Homo sapiens: one gene and its partner. The protein of the gene in region 2 interacts with the protein of the main gene of each other region in a pairwise test. Each region holds a gene or a part of one and is shown on either strand. Other genes may lie near its edges.

Region 1 (3,654 bases), about 26 Mb from region 2:
TGTTTTACCTTCATTTTCTTTGAGAAAATTTCTGCAAAAGGATCTAAGTTGATCTTAATTCTCTCTTTATAATGTAAATATTTACAAAGTAATTTTTTTGAAGGCTTGGATAGTAGAAAAACTTAAGTTTCTATTTATGTACCTCATGTAAACCCAATTCCAATTTCATCACCATTTCAGAAAGATGACGATTTTCTAATTTGAGTGACTCCAGCTGATCCAAAATCTCCTGAAAAGGGGAAAACAGAAAAAAATAAATATAACATGTAAATCACATGCATCTTACAAAATTTTTCCACATGGAATTTTCATTAGGCTAAGTCATATTCTTCATTTATATATATATACATATACATATTTATATATATATATACATATATATATGTACGTGTGTGTGTGTATATATATATATATATATATATATATATATGGACTTTCTAAAAAGATTTTTAAGATGTTATTAAGGTGAATGAACATGAATGGGATGAAGATATCATTCTAATAGGATAAATCAGGTGACAAAGCAGCAAAGTTTCAATCCACTGAACCCCTTAAATCCCTACCCATTCTCCTGTGCTGGCCTCCTCCAATTTGGCTTCTACCTGCAACGTCACATGGAATTGTACTTTATTCACAAAATAACAACTTATATTCAGTTCTCATTCCCCTCAGCTTTTGTGCTTGACCATTCCCATTTGAAAATATTCCTTCTTTCCTTGGCTTGGCAAAAACTATCTGATTTCCCTCCTCACTGCTCCTTTTTTTAAGCTTCATTCCAACATCTTTTTTACACTAAATGAGAAGTATCCTAAGTTTGGTTTGAGTCACTTCTCTTCTTACGCTATGCTTTCTCACTATAATCATTAAGTCTCTCAGGGGGTTTCAAATGTCACCATGAAGAAAGGACAGCCACAGCTAAATGCCTAATCCTGATTTTAATCTTCAACTCCAGGCCTTCTGTGGAATTGACTATTACCCATACAAAATTCCAGCCTTTATTCCAAACAAATGTGTCAAACCAATGTCCTCTCCACCAGTTTCCCCAGTCTGTGTACTTTTCACACAAATTCATCATCCTTCACCAAACTTGCTCCCTGTCTTTTCTCTATTTCATTAAAAAGCATCACTTTCCATCAGTTGCCTAAGTTTAAATCCTGTGGAGCACCATTCCTTAACTCTGCCTACCTCACCTTCCCTGCCAATCAAATACAATGCCCAGTCATTTTTACCAGCCCAGTATCTCCAGAATTCATCCATTTCCCTCTGCCTCCCTTGCCCACTGCTCAGGCCACCATCTTACCACTGTAACAGCATCTGGGTGCTCTGTCTCCCTGCTTATTCTCCATTTAAGGACCACTGAATTTTACTCCTGCTTGCAGCCATTCCCTACTGACCTCAAGGTCACAGTATAACTCCTTTACGTGGCTAACGTAGCCCTTCAGCAGCCAGTCCCTGCTTTCCAGTCTCATACCTTCCACTCATCCCACTTGTACTCTAGTTTCAACCACAGCAAGCGTGTTTCTACTCTCTCTTAGAGACCTCTGTATTTTCCTGTGCCTGAAACACTTTTCCTCCCCATCACCCAGCTTGCTCCTAACTTAGCTTTGCTATCACACCTTCTGGAAGGCCTTTGCAGCGAGTGGTCTAGATTCAGGCTGCTTGTGATCTCTAGTGACTCTCACCATACACCACTGATACAGTCACTTTACTTGTCTGTGTCTACTCTCACCTCCCCACCATGCTCACTAAACTCTTTGCTAGCCAGCATACTCTCAGCTCAAAGCAGGTATCTAATAAAAATTCACTGAATTAAATATTATGAAAATTATGTCTTTAATCAACTCCATCTTTAAAACAAATTTCAAATTTAAAAAAGGTTTTGTTCAGGCTTCACCTTATGCTCTACTGCTTTGTCTTCTGCCTTTTGCATCTCTGCTCTGAGTCGCTTTTCCATGTCTGAGGAAGAACCTTTGGTGGAAGCAATAGTGATATCTCGCTGATGTAACTCCTGAGTTAGATGGGAGATTTCCATCTTCATTCCTTCTAGTGCAGAACTGTAACTTTGTTCACCCTGTAAAATCTGTTCTTTCAACTATAAAGAAGCAGAAAAGAAAGCACCAAAAGTTAAGAGAAAGCATTTAGATAGAATAATATGTTACTAGCTAATAAAATAAAAGTTCACCTTATCTCAAGACATTAAATTTCTCTTAAATTAAATCTGCAGAAAAATTAGCAATTTACCAAGTTGCATATCTGTACTGAAGGTCAGGTGGTTATACCTACAATCATTTATTATACCTCAAAACAGGGAGAGATGGGTTATTCAAGTGCTGAGGACCAGAATCAAGGTCCATGCACACAATTTAGAGGAGAGTACTTGTGACCTTCATTCTTTTTTTTAGTTGTGAATCTAAAAGTTTTGCTCATATGGTATCTTAGTCCACAGGATAACAAATAGAACAAGAGGAAGTAAGGAACTAGAAGTAATCTTAAAGAAGTAACAAAAAATACAAATCAAACAAATAGGACAGTTAGGGCCCATTCATATAGACACAAACAGCTCTGCATACCTCAATAGCTGACAAGGATACTAACTACATCATAGCACAGGAGACAATACATAAATACTATCTTTAGGCAATAAGAAAATATTAAGTGACAGTTCATATTTTTTTGCAAGCAACAGAGTGTATGTCTTTTAGAAAACTTTTCATCAAAACATGTTTAAAATAAAGTTTTTGAGTTCAAAGGGGACAGCCTTCAATTATCTTAAAAATATTTATTGGGCATCAGGGGCGATGCCAAAGAAAGAAGGCACTTTCCCTATGCACATTCCACAAACTCTTCCACTCCTAAATATCAAGTGGTCCCTTGAACTACATTTTTTTCTCATTAAAAATAACCCCTATAATCTCCCAATCCACAGCTTTGTCCATAAACACATACAATTTTGCAATCCTAGGTATGCAGATTTTTACCTTCTTAATCTCTGCTTTGTATTCATTGTTATGTGCTTCCATCCTCTTCAGTTCTTCATATTTTTCCATTAGTTCTTGGCTCAGCTGTTTACACGTTGCACTCACAGATTCCAAACTGTATGACAAAAATAAGATCCCATACTTAAAACCAAAATCCTGAAACCTATAAATTGGACTATCTAATTTACATTCTTGATATCCAAAAAATATCCAGCCAATATCTTAAACATCACCTCAGTCATTTAAAATATTACTAAAAAGCCAATCAATAAAAAAACTGTGATAAAAATGTAAACTGTTGTCCCAACGTCAAAAATAATAAACTTAATTTTAGTCAAACGGAAGAGTACACATATACTTCAATAATAACAAAGACTATCTCAAGTACTCCAAGTATTCCAAAAGGAATAAAGCAGAAAATATGTGTGTGTATGCATGTTTGTGTATTTAACATGTAGATAAAAGTAAGAAAATACTTACTGGTTTCCAAAACCAGAAATAAATGTAAAAACAAAAAATGTATTACTTAAAGATAACCTAAAAAGTGTAAAATGATATTTCTCTTGTTGTTTGCCTAAAGGTTAACAGTTCATGTTAAAAGCAATTTTATCTTTTACATACAGAAAATGTCAGTGTACAAATGATCATGATTCATGTGTTTAAAACAAGATATCAC
Region 2 (3,654 bases):
TTATTAAATTATAATTTTATAAATTTCATAATAGTGAATAGATAATAAAATAGAACTCTAGTACAGTTGTTATAAATATGTATAAAAACATTATAAATCAAAGGTAGTTGCATAAGGCTGATGACATGACACTTCATTTGGGAAACAAAAATATTTCATTCTACTTTGTCCCATCAAAACTGTAGATGCAGGCTTTGGATCAATGGATCTTGGGAATTAAAAAGGAACATATCAATTAAAATAATTGTGGGTTCTTTCATTATATAATTAATGTGATTTTTAACCCTTGCTTTCCTGTTCTGTTTAATCTTTGTTTTCTGAGTTTTACGAAAGTACAACTATTAACACTGATAAAGAAGAGAGAAACCAATAGCAACATAGTTAAAAATAAATATGTTATCCTGAGCAAGAAACCACTTGAGAGATGGTATAAAGAACCCAATGCATAAATAAGTGGATAAACTTAATTTTCACCTAGTGAGCTCTCAAAAACGAAGTCTCTTTTTGGAAAGAAAATAAGTACTAAACTTTATCACTCATGAAAACATTAAGTATCATTAATGAACACAATTAGGAGTTTTCCTTTTGGTTTAAGATAAATGCAGATGGACCTGTGATCACTTTTTTAGATCAAAGACCTAAAGAGTCCTGTCTGTATGCTACATATCAATCATGCGATAGGATTTTATATCTCCTTTGGTGGGTACATCCTCAAAGGTACTAAGGAAAATCATTACTGCCCTTTCCTTTCCTTGATCTCTTGCAGAAAGGAACTTACAGATTTCTTACGGAAATTGAAGGATGCTTATGGAAAATCCTTGTCTGAACTGACATTTGATGAAATTGTTTGCAAGATTTCCCAGTTTATTGACCCCAAAAAGTCTCAGGTAAAATGCAAAAACAACCAAAAAACCTGTATCTCTCTGCCCTTAACTCTAGTAGTTAACTGTTTTAAATATCTCCATAACCTGTTCAGAAAATCAGTAACTTGTAATCATATTAAATCATCTATTAACAGTAAATAACAACTTCAACTTAACAAATGATATCAGAAGTCTTTTTGAAATACCTGTTACCTAATCATTCTAGAATAAAACTGACCTCCTTGAAATTTGCTCTAGTTTCTTTGAATGAGTCTAAAGAGGGAGAGATTTTCTAATTTTCTTGAAAGATTTATTTTAATTAAAAGAATGTATAGAGTTATTTTTGTTTTTACCTAGCTCTGAGTATATAAGTATTGCCACCATTTTGTTCAAGATTTCTCACAAATCTGATTATTTACCCTTTTGCTAGTTCTTACTATACCCCGTTCTGTACTAATGTTTCAGCTCTTACTGTTTTAGGATAATTCTGAAAAAATAAACATTATGTTCTTATTTTCAGAGTCAAGGAAAATCAGTGTCAAATGTTAATTGTGTTTCACCTAGTCATTCTCCATCACAGCCTGATGCTGCCCAGCCCCCAAAACCAGCCTGGAGGCCACTCACTTCACAGGGTCCTGCCACATGGGAAGGAGCCAGTAATCCAGTGAGACTGAAATTTTTGATTCTGAACACATTTAGATTTGGGAGAAAACAATGAGCTAAATTTAACATTTTCTGTATTTTCCCTAGGATGAGGAAGAGGAAGAAGAAGAGCCTTGTGTGATCTGTCATGAGAATCTGTCTCCAGAAAATCTTTCAGTTTTGCCTTGCGCTCACAAATTCCATGCTCAGGTAACACTTTAAATTTTCCCATTAATCAGCTAAATGAGATTCATACTGCCTTACTTATTATCATATACATGTATCATTATCCATTGTTGTCTCACAAGTTCCACTGGATATAACTCTGAGCTTTTGGGTACCACACAGAAACATTTATGCTTTTCCCATACATAGCCATGGATTGCATTGTGCTCTCTCAGATCTCCATCCACCCTACAGAAGAAGGGGACAATGTTGAGAGTCAGATGGTACACAGTAGGCAGTTCCTTCGAATAGAACTGGGACAAATGTCGATTGACGTGGTAGTTTAGTGGCAGAACTAGCAACAGCACCACTTGAAATTGACATGCTATAAATACCACATAGTGTCCTTTGTCCATAATTAATGACAGCCCCCTTTCATAAAGCATAAGATTTATCAGTCTCTTCAGGCTTCTATATTTGCTTTTGAAAGATACTCAGGCTTGAGTTTTGATGTTAGAAAAATGTGAGGCATGGTGGCTCACACCTGTAATCCCAGCACTTTAGGAGGCTGAGGTGGGTGGATCATGAGGTCAGGAGATCGAGACCATCCTGGCTAACACTGTGAAACCCCATCTCTACTAAAAATACAGAAACAAAATTAGCCGGGCGTGGTGGCGGGTGCCTGTAGTCCCAGCTACTCAGGAGGCTGAGGCAGGAGAATGGTGTGAACCCAGGAGGTGGTGCTTGCAGTGAGCCGAGATCGGGCCCCTGCACTCCAGCCTGGGTGATAGAGTGAGACTCCATCTCAAAAAAAGAAAAAGAAAAATATGAGGTTGGCATGTCTTTTGTTGATTCTTGGCATTTATATAGATTAAATTCTGGTGTTACTGCCACACAGTTGCTATTGGTATATAATTAATGATCCAAGTCCTCTGTTGCAGAGATGTAATTTGACACAGGAAAAGGTAGTCATAGTAAAGAAAGGCTTTTCAGGGAAGTAAATAATAGCCAGTTCAGTCAAGCCATGTTTGTAAGACATCATTTCAAAGATATGATATGTGGTACCTGGTACAGAATTATATTTTGTATTTGCTCTAATATGAAGATACATCCACAAAATGCCTAATCCCAAAAGTTTTCTAGGAAAGATCCTTAGCCATTGACTTTCCCCTTTGAAGTTTATAAGGTTCTGACAATTTAGGAAATACATGTTTAACAAAACTTATCCTACTCTTTGCCATTGCCCACAAGTAGAAAGCATATAATTCATTCAGGTCATTTTTTATGACTATAGTTAGTGGGCCTATTATATATAGTGCTTATTATTAATCCTCTCTCATCTGACCTGGCCCTCCATTATTTATATACGTAAAAATGATTTGTTTTTGGAGAGTCAGCATTCAAGCAAGTGACTTAACAGATAGTTCATAGCCGAAAATTACTGTCATTATCGCCAAAGAAAACAATCTGAGAAGTGTATTCATGATCTAGGGATTTTAACTGCAAACACCATAAGCATTTCATACCAGGTACTAGTGACTTTTGTATCATTAGTTATGACTTTTTCTGGATTATAAATGAGAACAGTATATAGTAAACCAAAGAATATAGCAAGTTTCTCCAATTTCCTTGTCAGGAAGGATTGCTAGTCATCTTGAAAATTGAGGTTGAAGGAAGCATTTCTAGTAGAATAAACTGGCTAAAAGGTATTGTGCAGTTACCACCTATTTTGTTTAGCAAACCACAGGGAAGGTGCCATGGTTGCAGCAATTGGTTTGACGATCCACAGCGTAAGGCTTTAAAGATCCACCAGAAGACATGTTGGTTGGTAACCCTGATGCATAGAGTGACAACTGCCTCTGCTAGGCTACATCTGAGAGACTGACATAAATCTTTTTGCTCCTTAGTGCATTAGACCATGGTTGATGCAACAGGGGACATGTCCAACGTGCAGACTCCACGTTTTGCTACCAGAAGAATTCCC

Evidence for each region. Proteins that work in one complex are often made in the same cells at the same time.
Region 1: the proteins of DZIP3 (region 2) and CEP63 interact in binary tests that used the Homo sapiens proteins (3 or more experiments, as listed by UniProt).

The regions. Positions count from the first base shown.
Region 1 is NC_000003.12:134,548,501-134,552,154, reverse strand, and holds part of CEP63 (centrosomal protein of 63 kDa), read right to left. Parts: intron 3,094-3,654; coding exon 2,979-3,093; intron 2,093-2,978; coding exon 1,895-2,092; intron 230-1,894; coding exon 143-229; intron 1-142. UniProt on the Homo sapiens protein: Required for normal spindle assembly.
Region 2 is NC_000003.12:108,687,210-108,690,863, forward strand, and holds part of DZIP3 (E3 ubiquitin-protein ligase DZIP3), read left to right. Parts: intron 1-766; coding exon 767-887; intron 888-1,383; coding exon 1,384-1,527; intron 1,528-1,613; coding exon 1,614-1,715; intron 1,716-3,577; coding exon 3,578-3,654. UniProt on the Homo sapiens protein: E3 Ubiquitin ligase proteins mediate ubiquitination and subsequent proteasomal degradation of target proteins.